Linked DNA regions of Homo sapiens. The protein of the gene in region 1 purifies or fractionates together with the protein of each later gene. This does not show direct contact. Each region holds a gene or a part of one and is shown in the gene's direction. Other genes may lie near its edges.

Region 1 (3,500 bases):
AAAGAACATATTCTGGTGGGTTTATGATTAGTTATGTGGATTTCTTTACCCAATTCCTGCTAACAACTGTAGGATCTTACATAGTTGATACAGCCACAATGTGTGATGTGTGATGGCTAAGCTATCTATTTGTATGTCTGTATTAGCCACAGTATATGATGGCTAAGCTATCTTTTTGGTTTCCCTGTTTTTGGATATATAGGAATTTGTGATTTGTTGTTTGTTTTGCTGTGATTTAAAATAATTATTGTAATATTACTTTAAAAAGACTTTGATACTTTATACTACTTTGAGAAAAATCAAAATAGAAATCGTCTTCTGTACTCAGTTACAATCCTAACCTGTCATGTTCTAATTTTAAAGAAAACAACCAGTACCTGTATGAAGAGATCGTTTAATAGAGTTCGGTTTTATACCATTTTATTCAGCTACTTGTCATAAACAGCAAGTTATTCTTCTGTATAATGCCAGCCGTTTTGCCAGTAAAAACAAGATAGTTTCAATGGGAAAATTCTGCCCCATTTTCTATCCCATGCTGCTATGCAGCTACATTGCAATTAACTGAGTTTCTTAATTGGAAATTCTCTTAAAGTTTGAGAAGCTAAATGCAGCTGCATCCATAATAAAGGGCCTCTGTAGTACAAATGGTATGCCGGTGAACACTTGGTTTAGCAGAGAATGTATTCTTGCACTGCATCCTTTCTTCAGTGAATATTGTTGCAAGCTAACAGTTCATATGAGGGTGGCACAAGGCACAGCCTTTTAATCCTACTCATCAGTGAATCAATGAATCAGTTTGGAGGTAAACAAGGAGACAGAAGACGATAGTATGACTGATATGACTTAGCTAAAGTGGAAACCAGCCATGAGGTAATAAAGATACTTAAAAAGGGGAAATCTAATTGCCTTCTGAATATAGAAAATCTGAATCATCAAAAAGCTTTCTCAGAACCCCATTCTAATTCCAAACAGGAAAAATGAAGAATTAAAATAGGAAATATTTTGCTTTGTCATAGATAAATATGTGTATGTGGGCAGGAACTCAGTGGTTGACAATGGGATGTTACTAGAGAACTTCATTTTCACCATTTCCAGGACATTGAACTTACACTTGGATTGAACCAAAAGTAAAAAGCACAATTTATAACAAAATTTGAATAAAGAGCCATGTTGATTTTGGTTTGTCAATTAGCACTTTTCTTTTTCAAGGCAGGAATTTTTGTTGAAATGCTTGGTAGTTGGACAGTGTAAGGTCAGTCAGTAGTAAGATCTATTGGCATTAGATTTTCTTTGTTAAGGAATGTATTTTAATATTTTAATTCTTTGTTTGTTTGAGATGGAGTTTCACTCTTTCGCCCAGTCTGGAGTGAAGTGGTGTGATCTTGGCTCACTGTAACCTCCGCCTCCTGGGTTCAAGCCATTCTCTTGCCTCAGTCTCCCAAGTAGCTGGGATTACAGGTGCCCGCCACCATGCCTAGCTAATTTTTGTATTTTTAGTAGAGATGGGGTTTCACCATGTTGGCCAGGCTGGTCTTGAACTCTTGACTCCGGTGATCTGCCTGCCTCAGCCTCTCAGAGTGCTGGGATTACAGGCTTGAGCCACTGCGCCCGGCCGGAATATATTTTAATTCTTAACTGGCCCTTTTGCTAATAAGAATAATTTTTACAGTTGGCCATTAAGATTTTATGATCTGTTGATATTTATAGTGGTGGCTTTATTTGTATATTTCTGATAGATGGATAATTAGGAACTTATCTTTTAATCATAGGTGGCACAAGATCTCTGTAAAGTAGCAGGCATAGCAAAAGTTCTGGTGGCTCAGCATGATGTGTACAAAGGCCTACTTCCAGGTGAGGTTTTCCAGTAGAAAAAAATGTAGTGTCTAAATTACGCTTGAATATATGAATATGAAAGTATTTCAAAATATTTTTTTATCAAATGTGTTTAATTCTCAGAGGAACTGACACCATTGATTTTGGCAACTCAGAAGCAGTTCAATTACACACACATCTGTGCTGGAGCATCTGCCTTCGGAAAGGTGAGAAGGTTGAGAATGTGGAATCTGATATCACTGCTTGAAAGGGTTAGATTTCATTGTGCTGAAAGTATGCAACAGACTGTTTATGTAGCCAATCTGGATTTATCTGAATTGATGTGGTAGTTTTGCTAAAATTTATTCTTTCAAGATTTTGTCATAATTTTCCGTTAAAACTACCATTTCCAGGTTTTCAAATTATGTTGTGGAGAAAACTCTAATTAGGCTATTATTTTAAAATTTTCTGCATGTAAAAGTAATGCTGAATTCTGCTTGCATGTGAGAGAGAGAGTGAACGAGCAAGAGTCATTTCTATTAGTAGCCCATTTTAAGAGATGGTTTATTTGGATGGCTGATGGATATCTAGAAAAGCCAAATTTTATCTACGTAGGGAATTTGGAAAGGGCTTGTGGTGGTTGAAGACATCCTTAAGGTAAAGAAAGCTGTAATCTGATCATGTGCATTGTGATGTGTCTGAAGAATGAGTGTGTTATAAGATGGATAGCAGTCTACATAAAGTTAAAAATGGAGGGAGGAGTGTAATGGGAGCTTAAGACAAGGAATTCGTCAGTGGATTTTTCTTGCTCTCTCTCTGTGGCCGTGGGTGTTATCTTAGCTCTCTTTTCTTTTGTTCCATTCTTAATAAGGTGTCATTTTTAGTCTTTATTTTTACTTTCTTTTTTTTGAGATGGAGTCTCACTGTCGCCCAGGTTGGAGTGCAGTGGCGCCATCTCGGCTCACTGCAGGCTCCGCCCCCCGGGGTTCACGCCATTCTCCTGCCTCAGCCTCCCGAGTAGCTGGGACTACAGGCGCCCGCCAGCTCGCCCGGCTAATTTTTTGTATTTTTAGTAGAGACGGGGTTTCACTGTGTTAGCCAGGATGGTCTTGATCTCCTGACCTCGTGATCCGCCCGCCTCGGCCCCCCAAAGTACTGGGATTACAGGCGTGAGCCACCGCGCCTGGCCTACTTTTTTTTTTTTTTTTTTTCGAGATGGAGTCTTACTTTCCTCGCCCAGGCTGGAGTGCAGCAGCACAATCTCAGCTCACTGCAACCTCTACCTCCTGGGTTCAAGCCATTCTCCTGCCTCAGCCTCCCGTGTGTAGCTGGGATTATAGGTGCGTGCCACCACACCTGGCTAATTTTTGTATGTTTAGTAGAGACAGGGTTTCGCCGTGTTGACCAGGCTGGTCTCGAACTCCTGACCTCAGGTGATCTGCCTGCTTCAGCCTAGCTCTGTTGCCCAGACTGGAGTGCAGTGGCACGATTGTAGCTCAACATACCCTCCAACTTGTGGGCTCAAACGATCCTCCTATCCTAGCCTTCTGAGTAGCTAGGACTACAGGTACATGCCACCATGCCCAGCTAATTTTCAAATTTTTTGTATCGATGTAGTCTCCCTATGTTGTGCGGGCTTGTCTTAAACTCCTGGCCTCAAGTCATCCTCTCATTTCAGCCTCCCAAAG
Region 2 (3,500 bases), on another chromosome or scaffold:
AAGTATGACAGCTGTTCTAAGCACAGACTTATCCTTTTAATTCTTCTCATAGGAATCTGTCTGCTATTCAGGATAGAGAAATTTGCTGCTATTCAATTTCTTGCAAAGAAAAGGATAATATAGGTAAGAAATGACTGGTAATTTTGGAAGAAATGGGTATCATTGGAAGGAATGTCTATGCTTCTTACAGCTTATTGTCTCGATTTCTCATTAAGTGACTTCCTTTTCAGAATACTGTTGCTTTTGCCTGAGAAAAAAGAATAGACATACCTTTTGACAACAAATATAGTGAACCTTCACTTAACATCATTGATGGCTTCTTTGAAATTGCAATGTTATCTCTCTCTCTCTCATACAAATATATATATAATATAATATATGTAATATGTATTATATATTATATGTAATATATATGTAATATGTATTATATATTATATGTAATATATATGTAATATATAATATATATAAATATATATTATATATAACATAAATATATATATATAAATAATATTATATGTATATGTATTTTTTGAGACAGTGTCACTCCTTCACCCAGGCTTGAGTGCAGTGGCGTGATCTCGACTTACTGCAACCTCTGCCTCCTGGGTTAAAGCGATTCTTGTGCCTCAGCCTCCTGAGTAGCTGGGACTACAGACGTGCACCACCACGCCCGGCTAATTTTTGTATTTTCAGTAGCGACAGGGTTTCCATGTTGCCCAAGCTGGTCTTGAACTCCTGACCTCAAATGATCCAACTGCCTCGGCCCCCCAAAGTGTTGGGATTACAGGTGTGAGCCCGGCCTATATGTTATCAAACTCTTGAACAGCAAAAAATTTTTTAAAAAGAGGAAATTGCACTTTTAAGCGAAATGACATACAGTAGGCCCTCATTTCGTTCAGCGTTACAATGTTAATGAGAAAAAAATAGTTTTGTTATACACCATTTCACTTAAAGTGGCAGTTTCCAAGAACCTATCAGTGATGTTAAGTGAGGACTGAATGTATAACATCCTGAATCTTCTTTGTGCTATTTAAAGAAGAAAATGCAATAAAGTCGTGAGGTTAAGATTATGTGATACCAATTTATTGTGTTAATTTTTGCAGAGCTAGTATCCCGCTGTGCTTTATAACAAAATGGCATTTTTGAAATAAGACTTTACAAAAATTAGTCTACAGGCACTACAACAATTTTTCAGTTATTGAACCAGTATATTACTGCAATATGTTAGCACTCTATTGGAATTATATGCCCAAAATACCCTTCATTTACTCAATGCCCATATTAACTTCTTAGAACTGCCATAACAAAGTACCACAAACAAGGTGGCTTAGAACAGCAGAAACTTAAGTCATTCAAAATTCTAGAGGCTGGAAGTCCAAAATCAAGTTGTCAGCAGGGTCGTGTTCTCTCTGAAGGCTGTAGAAGATCCCTCCTTGCCTCTCTCTAGCTTGTGGTGGTTGCCAGCAATCCTTGGCATTCCTTCACTTGTAGATATACCACTCCAGTCTCTGCCTCACATTCATGCTTCTCCCCTGTAGTTGTCTCTGTGTCAGTGTATTATGTTTTCCTAAGGACGCAAGTCACTGGATTAGGTAGGGCCCACCTAATCCAGTATGACCTTATCTTAACTAATAACTTGCAGAGACCCTATTTCCAGTAAAAGTCACATTCTGAGGTTCTGGATGGACATGACTTTTTAGGGGGACATTAAACATTCTAGCATAGTATGGTTACAGAATAAGTATGTATGGCTCAACTTTAGTTTCTTAACTAATTTGGTTTGAGATGATTTGATAAATGAATGTATTGGAACAAAATGTAATAAATAGTACCAGAATAGTATATCTATAAAGTTTATGCTGATATTTTTTCTTTAGCTTTTGTATTCCAGTCTATCCTTCCCTAACTCACCTTCCACCCCGCCTGCAAACATGGCTTTATTTATTTTTATTTTTTTAAGATGGAGTCTCACTCTGTCGCCGTGGCTGGAGTGCAGTGGCAAGATCTTAGCTCACAGCAACCTCCACTTCCCGGGTTCAAGTGATTCTTGTGCCTCAGCCTCCTGAGTAGCTGGGATTACAGTTGCCCACTACCACGCCTGGCTAATTTTTGTATTTTTAGTAGAGACAGGGTTTCATCATGTTGGCCATGCTGGTCTTGAACTCCTGACCTCAGGTGATGCACCTGCCTCAGCCTCCCAAAGTGCTTAGATTGACAGGCATGAGCCACCACGCCCAGCCACAAATATGCTTTATTCAGTTTAAAGTGTGGATAGTCGTTCTGGCTAATTTTGGGCTTCCTTTAAAGACCATCCAGGGCAGTCTCAGCCTTAGTAACAGCGGATAGACACAAATTTTCCTTTATAAATGGATAGAATAATTCACTTGTTACATTGGGAGCATTTATTTGAGAACAGACTCCTCAAGCACTTGTGGTTACTTAGACTTTATTTAAAAGTTTTTTCTCTATGTGGCGGGGAAAACTCTTTTTAAAATTTAAGATATGCCCCATGAGAGCATTTATTTCTACATCAGTGGTTCTCAATGGGGAGCTTTTCCCCCAGGAGACTTGACAATGTCTGGAGACATTTTTGGTTGTCATAACTAGGAGGGTGATGCTGGCATTTAGTGGGTAGATACCAGAAATGTAGCTAAACATACTATAACCTCCACAGCAAAGAATTATCCAGCATAAAATGTCAGTTGTGGCAAGGTTGAGAAATCCTGTTCTACACTAACCGTAATTTTTAGTCCATTGTGCTATTTTGTAAATCCATTACTCCCTACATGTTTTCTGTTTTTCCATTGTTACAAACTAGTTGGATACTTCCTGAAAAAAAAACAAAATCTCTTGGGCTCATATATGGAAGTGCAGTAGAGCTGTGAGGACTTCTTTCGCTATTTGAGGCTGATCTTTATAGTTGGCTAAATAGCTCAGTAGTAATTTTAGAACTCCTGGCTCACTTAAAAGGTTGTCAAGCCCAAGGAATCTGATCCAGTCTAATAAGATCCACTCTAATAAAATTCGAAATAAGTATTTTGTAGATCAGTTCATCTGAGTATCTTATTTCTGTTGTCTTTTTGCCTATTCATAAAGATCCATTTGTCTTTAGGATATGAACTTCTATCAGTATCCACAGAGGCTTTGTGTAATTTTTTAGTGAATTTCTTTTTTTTTTTTTTTGAGATGGAGTTTCACTCTTGTGGCCCAGCTGGAGTGCAGTGGCGCAATTTTGGCTCACTGCAACCTCCGCCTCCTGGGTTCAAGTGATCTCCTGCCTCAGCCTCCCGAGTAGCTGGGATTACAGGCGCCCGCTGCCGTGCTCGGCTAATTTTTGTATTTTTAGTAGAGATGGGGTTTCACCATGTTGGCCAGGCTGGTCTCAAACTGCTGACCTCAGGTGATCACCTGCCTCGGCCTCCCAAAGTGTGGGATTACAGGTGTGAGCCACCGTGCCCGGCCATGAATTTCTTAAATATTTAAATTTGGTTATTTCACTT
Region 3 (3,500 bases), on another chromosome or scaffold:
TTTACTGAGTCCTTATTTGAAACTTTTTATTTTCTTCAGAGCATTTATATCTATATAGCATTTTGCTCATTTACATGTTTGTTTATTACTATGAACAGATACACAAGATCCCACCTTTCGTGAAGCTTACATTCTAGGAAGATAACAAACTTGTAAATAAGTGAGCAAAGTAATTTCAGATACATATTATCAGTTCAATGAAGAAAGTAAAACATGATAATCATGTAATAGAAGCTGCTCAGCAACTTCAGAGCTATGGTCAGGGAGGGCCTGGGGATGTGTGTTTGACCTGGGAAGACCTGGGAAAAGGCAGGCAGAGGAGGCAGAGGACCATCAAGTGCAAAGACTCTAAGGTGGAAACACATTTGGCAAATTCAAGGAATATAAAAACCGCCAACGTGTAAAAGAAAACATAGGGGAAAAGCTTCATGACACTGGCCTTGGCAATGATTTCCTGGACATGACACCAAAGACCAGGCAACAAGACCAAAAATAAACACATGAGACTACAGCAAACAAGCTTCCACACAGCAAAGGAAACGATTAACAGAGCAAAAAGGCAACCTATGGAATAGGAGAAAGTACTTGCAAACCACATACCTGGTAAGGGGTTAATCTCCAAAATACATAAGGAATCTCTACAACTCAACAACAAAAAAACCTGATTTTAACATGGGCTAAGATCTTACATAGACACTTCTCAGGCTGGGCATGGTAGCTCACGCCTATAACCCCGAGGCAGACAGTTCACTTGAGCCCAGGAGTTCAAGACCAGCCTTGGCAACATGGCAGAATCCTGTCTCTACAAAGAAATTAGCTGGGTGTGATGGTGCACGCCTGTGGTCCCAACTACTCGGGAGGTAGGAGGATCGCTTTAGCCCAGGAGGTCGAGGCTGCAGTGAGCTGCGATCAAGCCACTGTACTCCAGTCTGGGAGACAGAGTGTCAAAAAAAATTAAAAATTAAAAAAATAGACATTTCTTCAAAGAGGATATAAAAATGGGCAACACATATATGAAAAAGTTCTTATCACTAATCATCAGGAAAATGCAAATCAAAATCACATAATAACCTCACACTTGTCAAGATGACTATAATGAAAAAAGACAAGTGTTAGCAAGGATGTGTAGAAATCAGAACCTTTGCACACTGTTGGCGGGAATGTAAAATGGTACAGCTGCTATGGAAAACAGTATAGATGTTCTTCAAAAAATTAAAACTAGAACTACCATGTGATTCAGCAATCTCACTACTGGGTATATATCCAAATTAAATGAAATCAAGTTCTCAAAGAGATATTAGCACTCTCACGTAGACTGCAGCACTGTTCACAACAGCATAATGTCAATGTCCATCAGCAGATGAATGGATAAAGAAAATGTGTTAATGCTATTCCACCTAAAAAGGAAGGAAATTCTGCAATATGTGACAACATGGATGGACATTGCGGACATTATGCTAAGTAAAATAAGCCAGACACAGAAAGACAAATACTGCATGATTGTTCTTAAAAGGTGTATCAAAAGTAGTCAGATTCATAAAATCAAAAACTAGAATGGAAGGAATCTAGGCAGACTCCTAAATTTGGGGTCTGATCAGCTAAGTGGATGGCAAAGCCAGTGAGAATTTATCCAAAAGCACAAAAGTTGTTTCCTTCTCTTCATAGTCTCCTATGTGTCTTTCAGGCATGAAGTCATCAATATCAACCTGAAAAATAAGCCTGAGTGGTTCTTTAAGAAAAATCCCTTTGGTCTGGTGCCAGTTCTGGAAAACAGTCAGGGTCAGCTGATCTACGAGTCTGCCATCACCTGTGAGTACCTGGATGAAGCATACCCAGGGAAGAAGCTGTTGCCGGATGACCCCTATGAGAAAGCTTGCCAGAAGATGATCTTAGAGTTGTTTTCTAAGGTTTGTGCATAAGAAATTTCAGCTCCTATTTGAAAAACCTGTTTTTTAAAGCGAAATCAGTGCTGCCATTTATGGTTCAGTGATTTGGGAGAGAAAAACAAAACAGGAATATGCTTGTCAGCTCTGAGTGTCCTGCAAGTCCTTTCACGATCCAGTTCCTGTTTACCTCCAAAATTATCCCTTTTCACTCGTCTCCTGACACTTTATATATGCCAGCCATACTAAACTTTTCTCAGAATTCCCAAATTCGCCCCTTTCTCTTTCAATTCTTGCTGTCAGATTCTTCCCACTTCTCACTGTGCCTGGTTATCTCCACGTCATTTTTCACATGTCTGCTCCGACACTGCTGCCTTTTCAGGAGCTTGGCAGGCTGGTTAGTGCTCTAGCTTCTGAGTTCCCATCCGTGTGAACTTTTGCCTGCCTTCTTGCCTGTGTACTGCACTGGGGCTGTGAGCTCCTTGAGGGTGAGGGCTGTGTTTTGATCACTGTTAGTTCACTGCCTAGTTTTATGACTGGCTCTGCTACTTTCTTGTGACTCTGAGCAAGTTACTTATTACTTTGCCTCTCCGTTCATCATTGGTAAAATGGATATAGTAATTGTTCCCACCTCATAAGATAAAAATCAGTTAATATAAAACACCCAGAACAGAGTCTGACACATGGGAACTACTTAATTCTTGTCCTTATAGCCATAGCATCAAGCAGTGAGCATCTACTTTGTGTTGGCAATAACTCAGATGACTGAATAAATAGCAATCCTGTAGAAGAACTGTTTGTACCTTACTTAGCATCAACACTGTGGATTAGTTCAAACAATTAGTATTAACAAAGAAATGACTAAAAGATGTGTGTTTAGACACCAAGAATAGCATGTCTGGTTATATGCCTATAACATTGTCACCTTGGTAGTACGGTCAGTATATAAAGGATTATCTTTAGAGAAAAAGATGGTTAAAGAAATGCCCTAAGAGAGAGTTATAGGGAAAACATTCTGTTTTAGGAGACATTATAAAGGGAAGCCAATGGGACAGGAAGAGTGAGTCATCTGCTTAGTAAGATGAGGGTGAAAGAATAGTAGAGGCGGCTGCTGTGAAAGATAATGTAAAGGGAACATGACATTTTCAAGAACGATGTGGGAGAGTTTTACAAAGTAGTAACAAGTTAAAGGCATGCAGCTTCAAGACACGAAGTCATCAATACCAACCAAAAAAAATAAGCCTAAGTGGTTCTTAAAGAAAAATCTCTTTGGTCTGGTGCCAGTTCTGGAAAACTTTTTTTAGTATGGCTGGAATATAAAGTGTCAGGAGAAGAGATAAAAGGGGTAACTTTGGAGAGGTAAACAGGAACTGGATCGTGAAAGGACTTGTAGGACACGTCAGAGAAAATGAGCTTTAAAAGTAAAGCTTTTAGACATGAAGCTTTACTTTCATGCATAAAGCTACTACTTTAAAAAGTAGTCACAAGAGATTCATTGTACTATCTAGAAAGAAAATGAGATTTAAAAGTAATGCTGAAGATGCCCACCTTTACTTCCCTGCTTGGGTTTTAAAGGAGAGGTGGCTTTATGTACATATGACCCTGCTCTCCTGGCCA
Region 4 (3,500 bases), on another chromosome or scaffold:
ATGTCATGTCTTCTAAGCAACCATTTGAAACTCCCTGCCTGACGAATGTGGATAGGGTAGCATTCTATCATTATTCCTGTCAGAGTACTTATCTCATTATGTTGAATTTGCCTGGATTTTTTTTTTTTTCTTCTGGCACAGTCTTGCTCTGTCACCCAGGCTGAAGTACAGTGGCGTGATCTTGGCTCACTGCAACCTCTGCTTCCTAGGCGCAAATGATCCTCCCACCTCAGCCTCCCGAGTAGTTGGGACTACAGTTGCATGCCACCATACCGTCTCAGAGTGCTGGGATTATAGGCATGAGCCACACTGTACCTGGCCTGATTTGACTGTTTAATTGGCAGACTGGTAGTTCCTTAAAGAAATAGTTAAGTCTTGTTCATCATTTTATACCTAGTGCCTGGCATGTAATCAGCATATAGTTCCTATTTATTGAATGAAATAATGTGGGGTTTTTTTGTTGCTTTTTTTGTTTTGTTTTGTTTTTGTTTTTGAGCAGTGTCTTGCTCTGTCGCCCAGGCTGGAGTGCAGTCGCACGATCTTGGCTCACTGCAATCTCCACCTCCCGGGTTCAAGCGATTCTCCTACCTTAGGCTCCTGAGTAGCTGGGACTACAGGCGCGTGCCACCACACCTGGCTAATTTTTTGTATTTTTAGTAGAGACGGGGTTTCACCATGTTAGCCAGGATGGTCTCGATCTCTTGACCTCGTGATCTGCCTGCCTTGGCCTCCCAAAGTACTGGGATTACAGTCATGAGCCACTGTGCCCTGCCACTTTTATTTTTATCATCCTGATCATCATCATCATCATTTCTCTAGAACTTTTAGATCTACTAGTACCACTAAGAGAAAGATTCCTAAATTTAAAAGAATTATGATCAGCTACCATCATTGTTTCATGAGTTAAAGAAACTGGCTTTATGTAGCTGTGGTAAATGACAGAATTGTCTAGCTCATCACAAAATTTTTCTTAACAAGTATGGAATAATAAGACTAGTGTGGTTAGATCCAAATTATTAGAAACTGCACTTATTTCTTCAAGGTGATGGAAAATGGCAATGCTTCTAGAAGAGTTAAATTTTGGTATTTAGAAAAATTAATAAATGATTTGGAAAACAAAGTCTCATTGGCTTTGGGGATACACAGCTATTGCTATTAAGTAATCTTTTCAATAAAGACTTGGCTTTAGTTAATTTATCTGAGCATTGCTTCTGTTAGGGACATGTCACAAGTAGGAAATCATCCTTCAGAGACAGATGGAAGTAGAAGTGGTTAATTTAGACACTATTCTTTTTTTTTTTTTTTTAAATAGATGAAAGAGAGTTTACTTATGTATTTATATAATGGCCTTGGTCCAAAAAAGACTAAAGGGAGCTCAAAAAAGAATTATAGTAACTTTAAAAAATACATTAAACATATCCAAGATCTTAAATGTATCATTCTCCCCAAAAGCTAGTTGCTTCCAAACTTGACTTAATATTTTGCATGTTTTCCCTCCATTGCTTGGTAAGTGTATTTGCCTCTTCTTTCTGCAGTTGATGTCTGACGGCTGAGTTTTGCTGTTTTGTCAACTGACATTTCCCCTTCTGTTTCACCAGTTCCAGAGAATTGTTGAACAACTTAACAACACTACCTGAAGAAGTAATACTCAAGAGTTCTTGTTCTATACTGATTAATAGCTCCCATATTTTCTTCATCTCTGAAAAGTCTGAATTCTCTGTTTAATAATGACAAGGCAATTAGATGAGGTAGACACTATTCTCTTTCTGATGTTTGCTTCTTGGAAGTCCTTTGACTTTACCCACTACAGGGCCATAGTAAAATAATAGGAAAAGCATTTTCAATCTCCTTGGTTGTCCCTGGTAAATAGTGCCAGGAAAGATAGACAGTAGCTTGGTAATTATGGTTGGTGACCATAGGAATGGCTGTTTGTTCTAGGGGATGACAGAAATAGGGAGAATACATATATAAAGTGAGAGCTTTGTAATGTACTGTGGCTCAAACTAGAAGCAGTACTGATGGGCTAAGGTTGGGAACAGTAATAGTTAATAGTCGTCATGATTTTCACTTCATACATAGTTTTTATATGTATTGTTTGATGTTTACAACAGTGAAGTGGAAAGGATAGGCATTATTATTCCCTTCTTATGAATGAGGAAGCAAAGGCTTGGATAAATTAAAGGGTTTGCATGTTTAATTGCCAAGGGACATGCTAATAAGTAGGATAACTGGGTTTCAAACTCTGTTCTGCTGAGTCTTTAAAATGACATTGAAAAATCCATTCTTGAAACTCTAAAGACTGCAACATGAATGTGCTAAATTTATCTCTGGGGATTTTCTGGCTGCATTTATGCTTGGCAGGAAGAATATTTTGGGTAACTTTGAAACCTTGTTTTGTTTGGAAACAAGTTCATTAATTTCTATTTTGTGTTGATTAGAATTAATAGGTTTGTATGTTTTGGTCACAGAGATCAAGTGAGAAGATTAGCTTCGACTTTTTTTTTTTTTTTTTTTGCCGTAGTACTTTCTACCTGAGGGAACCTAAATAGAGTCATTGTGTGGCCATTTATGGTTGCCACTGTTCACATAAATATGACACTGCACCCAGACAGAAAATTCCAGCCTCTCTGAGACACTTTCTCTAATATCTCACAGATATCAATAAAGGGCCCACTGAAGAAATGGAATGGCTGGGGAGCAGAGTAGGTCAGGGTCGAAAAGTTTAAATTGTTGCTTCTCTAATTTTTGCATGTTTCTATGTGAGCAGTTTCACCTTCTTGAGCCTAAGTTTTCTCATCTTTAAAATGAGAAGTGGGCTGGGTACGGTGGCTCACGCCTGTATTCCCAGCACTTTGAGAGGCCGAGGTGGGGGCGGATTACCTGAGGTCAGAAGTTTGAGACCAGCCTGACCAACATGGCGAAACCCTGTCTCTACTAAAAATACAAAAATTAGCCTGGCGTGTTGGCACATGCCTGTAGTCGCAGCTACTCAGGAGGCTGAGACACAAGAATTGCTTGAACCCGGGAGGTGGAGGCTGCAGTGAGCTGAGATTGCAACACTGCACTCCAGCCTGGGTGACAGAGTGAGACTCCATCTCAAAAATAAATAAAAATAAAATAAGAAGTGTGTGGATGTTAAGCCATACCTTGTATGGTTTGTGGCAAGGACTAAGTGAGTGAGATAGCGTAAATGAAGCTCAATGCGTAGGAATTACTTAGTCATTGGGTTTCTTTGGACAAGTTACTTCAACCTCTCAGTTAAAGTAACCTTTCAGTTAAAGAGTTTCAGTTGCCTCATCTATTAAATAGAGATGATTATACCCTTTTCCCTGCCTGTTTTTCAAGACTGTAGTAGTGAAGCCAGGCATGATGACTCAATCCTGTAATCATAGCACTTCGAGAGGCTCAGGTGGGAGGATCACTTGAGCCCAGGAGTTTGAGACCAGCCTGGGAAACATAGTGATACCCCATCTTTGCAAAAAAATTTTTAAAAAATCAAC
Region 5 (3,500 bases), on another chromosome or scaffold:
TGGCTCACTGCAACCTCTGCCTCCTGGATTCAAGTGATTCTCCTGCTTCAGCCCCCTAAATAGCTGGGATTTCAGGCGCCTGCCACCATGCCCAGCTAATTTTTGTATTTTTAGTAGAGATGAGGGTTTCACCATGTTGGCCAGGTTGGTCCCGAACTCCTGACCTCAGGTGATCAACCCTTCTGGGCCTCCCAAAGTGCTGGGTTTACAGGTGTGAGTAACTGCGCCCAGCTGATTGAAAGATTTCTATGCTGTATGCACCTGCTCTACTGAGAAGGTCATGGAAAAGACAAGAGTTCAAAGGCTGATAGAATTCTGGAACTTCAGGGAGGGATAGATTAAGATCCTGCATGGTTTAGGCCTTTGGACACAAAACTATAAGCAGTAATTGTTAATATCACTCTAGCAGTTGAGTAGAGGACTGACTCAAGGTGTCAGAGATAAACACAATCGGACATTAAAGTGGTGAAAACAGATTTTATTCAGCCTACTGACAGTAGGGGAAAGAGCTAAACTCCAGTCTGATTTGTGGAGGGGTAACTGGGCCTTTTAAAAGAATGAGGGGGCTGGGCCTGGTGGCTCACGCTTGTAATCCCAGCACTTTGGGAGGCCGAGGCGGGCAGATCACGAGGTCAGGAGATGGAGACCATCCTGGCTAACATGGTGAAACCCCGTCTCTACTAAAAATACAAACAAAAATTAGCTGGGTGTGGTGGCGGGCGCCTGTACTCCCAGCTACTTTGGGAGGCTGAGGCGGGAGAATGGCGTGAACCCGGGAGGCAGAGCTTGCAATGAGCCGAGATCATGCCACTGCACTCCAGCCTAGGTGACACAGCAAGACTCCATCTGAAAAAAAAAAAAAAAAAAAAAAAAAAAAAAGGAGTAGAGAGGGATTTAAGCAGAGTTAGAGAAGTGAAAAATTACATAAAGTAGGAAGTGGGGTTGGTCCATATGAAACCCATCTGAGTTTGCCAACTGGCGCTTATCAAAATCAGGCTCCCACAGAGACAGAGACAGGGGTCCTATCTTCATCTTGAGGCGTTGGCTGGAACAAACAGTAAATTTTTTTTGGCAGCCTTAAGTTTTCTTAGGCGGACACTTTAAGGAGGGATCAGGTCCTCCTAGGAATAAGGCCTTGAGCTATTTGAAACTTGTGTTTGTTCAAATCTTTATAGTCCAAGGTTGAAGGCTTGTGAAGAAGAGGTCTCAGAGGACCCTAGCTAGGGTTTGGTCAGGGAGAGAATCTTTTGCCCAAGAGGTAGACTATTTGCAAGGAGATCAGACTTTTTTTTTTTTTTTTTTAGATGGAGCCTTGCTCTGTCGCCCAGTGGTGCCATCTTGGCTCACTGCAACCTCCGCCTCCTGGATTCAAGTGATTCTCCTGACTCTACCTCCCGAGTAGCTGGGATTACAGGCACACGCCACCACATCCACCTAATTTTTGTATTTTTAATAGAGATGGGGTTTTACCATGTTGGCCAGGCTGATCTCAAACTCTTGACCTCAAGTGATCCACCCACCTTGGCCTCCCAAAGTGCTGAGATTACAGGTGTGAGCCACCGCACCCAGCACAGATATTTTTACTTACAAGTTTTGGAAAAGGATAAAACCTTCAGCTAGGGAAATGAAAGTGAATAAAAATTTGCATAACTTGACCAATTAGAAATAGATCAGGAATAGGCCAGGCGCGGTGGCTCACACTTGTAATCCCAACACTTTGGGAGGCCGAGGCGGGCGGATCACGAGGTCTGGAGTTCGAGACCATCCTGGCCAACATGGTGAAACCGTGTCTCTACTAAAAATCCAAAAAATGAGCTGGGCGTGGTGGCAGGCGCCTGTAGTCCCAGCTACTCGGGAGACTGAGGCAGGAGAATCACTTGAACCCAGGAGGCAGAGGTTGTTGCAGTGAGCCGAGATCACACCGCTGCACTCCAGCCTGGCGACAGAGTGAGACTCCATCTCAGAAAAAAAAAGAAATAGGTCAGGAATAAAGAAAACACTTTTCTCTTGCTTTTCAAACTCAGGAACTAATAGATATGAATTATTGGATATCCAAGCACACCTTTGTTATTTATTTTATGAAATTTAGAAACCAAATATAGATTTGGATAATGCAGATCCCTCTGAATTTGGTCTGAATTCAGAAACCAAATAGATTTAGGTAAGGATACTTTTAAATTCGGTACACTTCTTCTTTTTTTTAATTAACTCCCTAAGATTCTTGACAGTTCCTCTGTCTGCTTTCCTCTCATATATGAATTGCTATTGATTAGATTAATATGTAACCTTTTTTGTAGAAGACCCTGATAATCCTACTTTGTTCTAGGAAATATGCCTGTTATAGCAATTTCTTTAGGTAATTTCATCCATTGTGTGAATTTATTTTCCAAATCGGGGACAGAGGCAATATCACTGTATTCATTCTAATTGGTTATTATAAAAACACCTAGTAATATCAATTATTGCTGCTAAAACAGTTCAAATCTTTGTGGGGGGGAAGTCACCATCCCTTATTTTAATGCCTTATGATTTCATAGGAATTAAATAGTAATGATTTTTTTTAACTTTAGGAAATAACTGAAATCATGTTATGGTTTGGTGAATTATTAACAGAATCTTATTAGAAGAATTTAGGCTTCCAAAGAAGCTGGAAGTTATTTGAAATTAAATTATAGATGTGTAAGTTACTAATAGTCACATCACAGCCTTGAAATTAGATACTGAGGGTTTTGTTTGTTTATTTATTACCAAATCCATCAAACTCTTTAAACTGACTTTGGTCATTGTTGGCTATTGTTTGTCATTCTTTTAAAGGACACAAATTAATAACTCTGTGTGTGTGTGTTGTTTTTTGTTTTTAGGGTCCACCAAAATATACTAAATCTGTTCTGAAAAAGGGAGATAAAACCAACTTTCCCAAAAAGGGAGATGTTGTTCACTGCTGGTATACAGGAACACTACAAGATGGGACTGTTTTTGATACTAATATTCAAACAAGTAAGTCTAAATGGAATCTTATGTTTTTGGCTTAAAGAGATTCTAAATACTTGGGTGGCAGACAGATGAGTAGTTAGCAGTACCTTTTTCCTGACTGTCACCTACTTTCATCCAGACATACTTTCCCCCAAGATCTACTTGGAAGAGGTCTTCAGTTCACTGATTATTGGCTGGCTAAAGACCTCTTGTTCTTTGGAAAGCAAAAGATAAGGAATCTCAGTCTAAACCTGGTTAATGTCCCAAAGTAAGGCATTAGTATTTGAATAGAAAAGGCAGGATAGTATGCTGTTTTGTGATATAAGTATAGGTCCTACCCCTCTACCCTTTGTTAAGAATGTAATTATTTTTACAGCCAGAATTTTATTGATGGATGATCTTTGTAAATTTTTTCCTTCTTTTAAAATACATAGTATTGTAATTCTGAAATCAAACCACTATATTTTTCCACTGGAATTTAATAATTTCCAATGGAAATTTCTTAATAATAAATTAGAGTATATCAT
Region 6 (3,500 bases), on another chromosome or scaffold:
AGGATCACTTGAGGCCAGGAGCTAGATACCAGCCTGGGCAACATAGTGAAACCCCATGTCTACAAAAAATTTTAAAAATTAGCTGGGTGCAATGGCATACACCTGTAGTCAATGCTAGCTACTTGGGAGGCTGAGGTGGGAGGATCACTTGAGCCCAGGAGTTTAAGGCTGCAGGGAGCTATGATTGCACCATGCTCTGCACAACAGAGTGAGATCCTGTCTCTAAAAAAAAGAAAAAATGAATTCCAGCTTCTTCTGCCTGGGCCCAGGTCTAGAAATATAAAAGTTACCCATTCCAGTTCCCTCAACATTACAGAAAAGTCAGGGGCGTTGTCTGCAAAGCTGGGCAAGTCAAGCTGTGACCAGGTGTTGGCTGCCTTGGCCTAAGACATCTGGGTTGTGTAAACTCATTTCTTTGTTTGTATATTTTCTTGCTTGGGGTTTGTTTTGTTCTATTTTCCCTTTCATTTCCTAGAAAAGCATCTTCTGGAAAGTTCTAGCCCTTTCCCAGCTACATAAAGAGGGAAGGGCCCTGGCCGCTGCACGCATCACCCACGCAGGAGGCCCCTAGAGGCTAGGGCTTACTCTGCAGGGGCAGCTCCCCAGAAACTGGGGACCTGGCTGGAGGGGTTGAGTGACCACAGGTGTCAATTGCTTTTTGTCTTCACACACAGAAAAGAGGTGGGACTAATAAATGGGCTGCTATTCCCCAGAAATCAAAGTTCACCCCCTCCTCGCTGCTGAAACACAGCTGGATTAGGGCCTTCTGTCACTTCTTCATCTCTGTCATCTTTGAGCCTTTTTGGCTGGGTCTGTCTCTGGCAAGGGTCAAAAATCTTCCTCCTCTACAGATTTTTTGGGAGGTGTTCAACCTGATTGACATCATTAGGAAGGAAGGCATGCCAGGTCAGGGATGCACAGCCTTTGCCATTTCCAAACTTACAGCTGCCTCTTTTGTGCTGTCATTGACGTCTGGTGACTCATCGCGTCTGTCCCATCTACTCCTGCTAATTGACATCCTCATTAGCAGCCACGCTGCCCCCATCTCAGAGCAGCCATCAGAATGAGCCCTGTCTCCATCTGCCTCTTCCCAGCCTTGCCAGTTATTGACATCTGCACTGAGCCTTTGAGCTTTGCCTAGTCTTTGGTGGACCTCGGCCATGATGGGCCAGTCTGGGTATAAACACCATGAAATAGAACCATCATGACGACAGATTTGTACAGACCAGGCTCTAGTGCTGGCTCTTGCTAACCAGCTGGGAGATCTTGGTCCAAGCTCCTTAGCCTTGGAGCCTCCATTTCTCCATCTGTAAAATGGAGATGATAATGCCAACCCTGCCCACACTGGGTTGTGGTGAGGAACAAATGGGCTGTGTGGAAGAAGCCCTGTACCCCACAGAGCACTCATAGACACAGATGACTGATCCCCTCTCTTCCCTACAGCTGCCCTGCACCACATTCCTTCCACCGGCTAGATGGGGGTGCTCCCAAGGTTCCGCTTTCCTGTTAACACATTGGAGCAAGGTTTTGTCTTATTACAGTCTACCTTCCAGTGACCACATCTCTGTCCATAGCTTCAACAAAACGTAGCTCCATGGAGCCCAAGTCCTTCCCCTAAGTGCCAGTGCCACGTGTCAGATGGCTTGCTTCACAGCTCCATCTGGATTTTTTCCCTTGTGTCTCAAATGCATGTCTGAAAATTCAGTATCTTTCCATCTGGCAGACTGTGAACTTTGCATTAAGTCCTTTCCCCAGGGGCCAGGCTCTTTCCCCACCCCCCACCTCCACCTCTCTTTACTGAGGCATCATCAGGCATCTTCCTCATGCACCCTTCATCCTCTCCCTGCCCACCAGCCCTGTCCAGTGGGCTATGCTAGCTGGTGGCCAAAGGCTGCTGACTTGTCTCCTGACCACAGCATTCCCTCATAGCTCGTCCTTTCTGCTTCGAGAGATACAACTGGTTTGAGGGTTGCTTTCTTACTTAGAAACCCTCGGGAGCTCTCCGTCACTTCCTGAATACAGTCCCGATTTCTTAGGTATTTCAAGCCTTTCCCAAAGTGATCCTGGCCAACTCACTCAGCCTTTTCTTTCATGTCTTCTCCTTTCTGTGTATCCTGCCTTCCAGTTAGATGGAAATGTGCTCCATTTCTTGGGCCACATCTTTCTTTGCCTTGCCTCCAGTTCCCCATCCCGGGACGTCTGTTGAAATCTTACTCTCCTCTGAGTGCAAGCTCACATGCAGCCCACGCTAAGAAGCTGCCGTGATGGTTCCTGGCAGCAGGGCTGAACACACAGAAGAGCATGTCACGCCAGCTGAGTGGCCCCAAGCATGCAGATGGCAGTGGGGAGCAGGGAGGCTGTGTTCTTATCTTCTCCACAGGCCGAGACCAGGTGTGTCACCTCATTTGACTTCACAAATTCTAACTCCAGAAAGTGTTTGTATGTAGTTTTTCAAAAATTTTTGCCTCATTAACTAATAGATGCCCCCAAAATGGCACAAAAGTGCTACAGAAACTTGGAGAATTAAGAGCTCACCCCAAGCGAAGGTGGTTTGCAAAGGCTGCCCAGAGACGTGAGGTTTGATTTGCCTTAAGGGATGGGTGAGTCTGGAGGGTCGCCAGGAGGCGGGGGATGGGCAGCCTCAGTAAGGGGACTGGAAGGCACCAAGTGGGGGCCAGGAGAGAACAGCGAGTGTTCCAGAAGTGTGGGCAGAAATAGAGCACCTCCTAGTCCTAGTAACAAAAATAGCTAATACATTTTGTGTTATTGATTATCTTGTATTATTTCATTGAATCTTCTCAACAACCACATGAGGTGGCTGCAGATGAGGAAAGTGAGACGCAGAGACAACTGTGACTCATTCAAGGAAATGCGCGACCCCATGGGGAGTTGGGACTCAAACCCAGGCATCCTGAGTCCATGCTTCCAGCCACTGCATGTTGCTGCTGCACTCAGCAAGATGTCTGAGAAGGCAGACAGTCCAACTTCCTTCCTGTGCAGAAATCTCAGACTGTCTTATTCCTGGGAGAATAAAAAATCTAGACCCTAACAGGTGTACAATGAAGAGTTTTGTAAGAAAGAAAGATTCAAAAATGAAATAGGTAACATATGGGCATTGAATGTGGAGCTGGATTTTAGCCTATATTCAATGGAATTGGAAGGTTTTGTGCAGGGAAGTGATGTAATGAGCGAGGAGGACGTGTAAGATTAATCTGTGGTGAATGTGCACTGACACTGGGGAGATCAATTAGGCAGAAAAAAAAAGGACTTTTAAAGAAGACAAATATTACTGGAACAGGCCGCTGGAGCAGTCTGGGAAATGAGCAGAATGACTTTTATAGAGCGTTCCAGGGCTTCAAGTAAATTCGAATTCAAATTTATTCTTCCTGTATTATTTGCTGCATCCTAAAATGGGCTAGGAAAAAAAAAACAGTGAATTTAGTGAGCATTTATTGTGTCCTTGCTGTATGTGAGGCCTTGTGCTAGGGACTTAAAACAAT
Region 7 (3,500 bases), on another chromosome or scaffold:
AAAGCCCAGCCTGGTTGGTGTGCTGTAGGTAGATATTCATGTTCAAGGCTCTGTCTCTTCCTGACCTCCGAACTGTTGTCATAAAATCATTCATTCATACACTAAACCATTTGATATGTATTTACTGAATCCCCACTCTCTTCTAGACACATTATAGTCAGTGTTTAATCTGTATACTTACTTAAAAATAGAAATGGGGTCTTGCTATGCTGTCCATGCTGGTCTCAAATTCCTGGGCTCAAGCGATCCTCCTGCCTCAACCTCCCAAAGTGTTGGGATTACAGGTGTGAGCCACTGAGCCTGGTCAGCCCTAAACTTTTAAATAGTGTGCAGCTCTGGCCACAGAGAGGATTATTGAAGATTAAGTAGGCTGGGTGCGTTGGCCTCCTGCCAAGCCAGGAGGCTTTTAGCCCAGGAGTTTGAGACCAGCCTGGGCGACATGGTGAGACTCCATCTCAAAAAAAATTTTTTTTTTTTGAGACGGGGTCTCACTCTGTCCCCCAGGCTGGAGTGCAGTGTTGCGATCTCAGCTCACTGCAAGCTCCACCTCCCGGGTTCACGCCATTCTCCTGCCTCAGCCTCCCGAGTAGCTGGGACTACAAGGCGCCTGCCACAACGCCCGGCTAATTTTTCGTATTTTTAGTAGAGACGAGGTTTCACCATGTTAGCCAGGATGGTCTTGATCTCCTGACCTTATGATCCACCCACCTCGGCCTCCCAAAGTGCTGGGATAACAGGCGTGAGCCACCGCGCCTGGCCTACAAAAAAAATTTTAAAACTAGCTGGGCATTGTGGTTCAAGGAGTTCAAAGTTGCAGTGAGTCATGTTCACACCACTGCAGGAGTTCAGGGTTTCAGTGAGCCATGTTCGCACTCCTGCATTCCAAGCTGGGCAACAGAACGAGACTCTTTTTAGACTATGTTTATTTGGAATAAATTCTTGTTTGTTTTAATTTGCCAAGGTATGTTTCATTTTTGGTCCATCTTAATGCTGGTGTCTGGTTACAGGTACCATTGTTGGATACTGGTGACATCATCATTGACGGAGGAAATTCTGAATATAGGGACACCACAGTAAGTGTTCTTCAGTCCAGATTCTTCCAGGTTCCGAGAACATTCTAGAAAAAAGTGTCAGCATCGCATATGTGACAGTAGGGTGAACTGCCCTGTGGTACTGATTTTTTTGAGATTACTACTGATACAATAGTTCTCAGCCTTTTTTTCTGTTAAGACACACTTAACAGAAGGGCCGGGTGTGGTGGCTCACACCTGTAATCCCAGCACTTTGGGAGACGGAGGCAGGTGGACCAAGAGGTCAAGAGATCAAGACCATCCTGGCTAACATGGCGAAAACCCGTCTCTACTAAAAATACAAAAAATTAGCCTGGCATGGTGGCATGCGCCTGTAGTCCCAGCTACTTGGGAGGCTGAGGCAGGAGAATTGTTTGAACCTGGGAGGCAGAAGTTGCAGTGAGCCGAGATCATGCCACTGCACTCCAGCCTGGGCGACAGAGTGAAACTCCATCTGAAAAAAAAAAAAAAAAAAAAGACACTTGGTGGGTGAGATTCTCAGTCACACATACAACTCAAAGGATGACTAACTCAGATACAGCAGGCTGAGAATTACGTTTTAACTCCTCCCCTTCCCCTTCCAAGTAATCCATGATATGTCAGTCTATAACTGGTTTAGAACCACTCCTCTAATGGTATCAAATGCTGAGGGAATTCCTGTGTGCTCTGAAGTGCTGAATGGCATTAAGTTGTATTACACCTACTCTTCGTTGAGTCTTATTCAAGGTCTTTTCCAGTAAAATGCCAATGTGTGTTTGGCTTAATTATTTTACTTTGGGGATGAGGTAGGTATCGTGAATGTCCATAGTTGTATTGTTTTGTTTTTTAACTCCTACACATAGGGGATTAACTTTCCTGAGTCATCAGTTATTCCTAGATCCTTGGGTCATTTCCTGTAAATGTAGGCTCTCCATTCCTATCTTATACTTCCTCTCATTTATAAGGGAAACATTTTTGGGTAGCATAATGAAACATGGAAGCATAATGAAACATGGAAGCATAATGAAATTATTTTTCTGTCCTTCAGAGACGGTGCCGAGACCTCAAGGCCAAGGGAATTTTATTTGTGGGGAGCGGAGTCAGTGGTGGAGAGGAAGGGGCCCGGTATGGCCCATCGCTCATGCCAGGAGGGAACAAAGAAGCGTGGTGAGTGCCATCAGCACTGTGCCCATCTCTGTACAAGGGAGCTGGACTTTGAGAACGAATAAGCCAGGAGCAGTTCTGCCACCCTGATCTCTGTGGTGCCCTGAGTGTGACAGCTGGGAGATGCTGGCAATTTCTTTTATCTAGACATTTTGTTGCTTTGATATAGTATATGTGCACAATCCTCTTTTGCCTTTTTTCTTCTGTTATTTCTATCAAGACTGATACCTGACGTTCTAAATAGGCTTTTTTTTTTTTTCCCGCCCAGGCAGGAGTGCAGTGGTGAGATCTTAGCTCACTGCACCCCCCGTCTCCTGGGCTCAAGCAATTCTTGTGCGTCAGCCTCCTGAGTAGCTGGGACTACAGGCACATGCCACCATGCCTGGCTAATTTTTTGCCTTTTAGTAGAGACAGGGTTTCACCATGTTACCTTGGGTGGTCTCGAACTCCTGACCTTAGGCGATCTGCCCGCCTTGGCCTCCCAAAGTGCAGGGATTACAGGCATGAACCACCACACTTGGCCTCTAAATAGGCTTTAAGGAAGCAGTTTAGGTAATGTTCTGTGCAATGTCTGGATGTAGGAATAAGGTCTGCCTCTTTTAGCTGATATATAACCCAAAAGTAACTTAATGTGATAATCGTGGGTAACAGGCTGGGCATAGTGGCCCATGCCTGTAATCACTGCCCAGCACTTTGGGAAGCTGCGGTGAATGATCATTTGAGCCCAGGAGTTGAAGACTAGCCTGGACAACATAGCGAGATCCTGTTTCTACAAAAAAGTAAAACAAACATTTTTTTAATTAAAAAATATAAATTGGCCGGGCGTGGTGGCTCACGCCTGTAATCCCAGCACTTCGGGAGGCTGAGGCAGGCAGATCACCAGGTCAGGAGATCTAGACGATCCTGGCCAACATGGTAAATTCCTGTCTCTACTAAAAATACAAAAATTAGCCGGGCATGGTGGCGTGCGCCTGTAGTCCCAGCTACTTGGGAGGCTGAGACAGGAGAATTGCTTGAACCTAGGAGGCAGAGGTTAGTGAGCCGAGATCGCGCCACTGCACTTCACCCTGGCGACAGAGTGAGAGTTTGTTTCAAAAACAAAACAAAACAAAACAAACAAAAAATACACACACACACACACACACACACATATATATAAATAATTGTGGGCAATCCGATATATATATAAATAATTGTGGGCAATCCGCTTGCCCTGGCCTCCCAAAGTACTGGGATTACAGGCGTGAGCCACCGTGCCTGGTCTGAAATATGATTCTTTAAGGCTGG

The links.
Region 2: the proteins of ETFA (region 1) and ARL8B fractionate together in Homo sapiens (co-fractionation; one large-scale study listed by BioGRID). This does not show direct contact.
Region 3: the proteins of ETFA (region 1) and GSTO1 fractionate together in Homo sapiens (co-fractionation; one large-scale study listed by BioGRID). This does not show direct contact.
Region 4: the proteins of ETFA (region 1) and ZMPSTE24 fractionate together in Homo sapiens (co-fractionation; one large-scale study listed by BioGRID). This does not show direct contact.
Region 5: the proteins of ETFA (region 1) and FKBP3 fractionate together in Homo sapiens (co-fractionation; one large-scale study listed by BioGRID). This does not show direct contact.
Region 6: the proteins of ETFA (region 1) and PDIA5 fractionate together in Homo sapiens (co-fractionation; one large-scale study listed by BioGRID). This does not show direct contact.
Region 7: the proteins of ETFA (region 1) and PGD fractionate together in Homo sapiens (co-fractionation; one large-scale study listed by BioGRID). This does not show direct contact.

What each region holds. Positions count from the first base shown.
Region 1 is NC_000015.10:76,290,970-76,294,469, reverse strand, and holds part of ETFA (electron transfer flavoprotein subunit alpha, mitochondrial), read left to right. Parts: intron 1-1,769; coding exon 1,770-1,851; intron 1,852-1,956; coding exon 1,957-2,039; intron 2,040-3,500. UniProt on the Homo sapiens protein: Heterodimeric electron transfer flavoprotein that accepts electrons from several mitochondrial dehydrogenases, including acyl-CoA dehydrogenases, glutaryl-CoA and sarcosine dehydrogenase.
Region 2 is NC_000003.12:5,174,292-5,177,791, forward strand, and holds part of ARL8B (ADP-ribosylation factor-like protein 8B), read left to right. Parts: intron 1-52; coding exon 53-123; intron 124-3,500. UniProt on the Homo sapiens protein: Small GTPase which cycles between active GTP-bound and inactive GDP-bound states.
Region 3 is NC_000010.11:104,257,892-104,261,391, forward strand, and holds part of GSTO1 (glutathione S-transferase omega-1), read left to right. Parts: intron 1-1,684; coding exon 1,685-1,907; intron 1,908-3,500. UniProt on the Homo sapiens protein: Exhibits glutathione-dependent thiol transferase and dehydroascorbate reductase activities. Has S-(phenacyl)glutathione reductase activity. Also has glutathione S-transferase activity.
Region 4 is NC_000001.11:40,261,236-40,264,735, forward strand, and holds part of ZMPSTE24 (CAAX prenyl protease 1 homolog), read left to right. Parts: intron 1-1,603; exon of another isoform or gene 1,604-1,727; coding exon of another isoform or gene 1,728-1,748; intron 1,749-3,500. UniProt on the Homo sapiens protein: Transmembrane metalloprotease whose catalytic activity is critical for processing lamin A/LMNA on the inner nuclear membrane and clearing clogged translocons on the endoplasmic reticulum.
Region 5 is NC_000014.9:45,120,982-45,124,481, reverse strand, and holds part of FKBP3 (peptidyl-prolyl cis-trans isomerase FKBP3), read left to right. Parts: intron 1-2,861; coding exon 2,862-2,997; intron 2,998-3,500. UniProt on the Homo sapiens protein: FK506- and rapamycin-binding proteins (FKBPs) constitute a family of receptors for the two immunosuppressants which inhibit T-cell proliferation by arresting two distinct cytoplasmic signal transmission pathways. PPIases accelerate the folding of proteins.
Region 6 is NC_000003.12:123,119,025-123,122,524, forward strand, and holds part of PDIA5 (protein disulfide-isomerase A5 precursor), read left to right. Parts: intron 1-3,500.
Region 7 is NC_000001.11:10,402,064-10,405,563, forward strand, and holds part of PGD (6-phosphogluconate dehydrogenase, decarboxylating), read left to right. Parts: intron 1-1,007; coding exon 1,008-1,073; intron 1,074-2,097; coding exon 2,098-2,216; intron 2,217-3,500. UniProt on the Homo sapiens protein: Catalyzes the oxidative decarboxylation of 6-phosphogluconate to ribulose 5-phosphate and CO(2), with concomitant reduction of NADP to NADPH.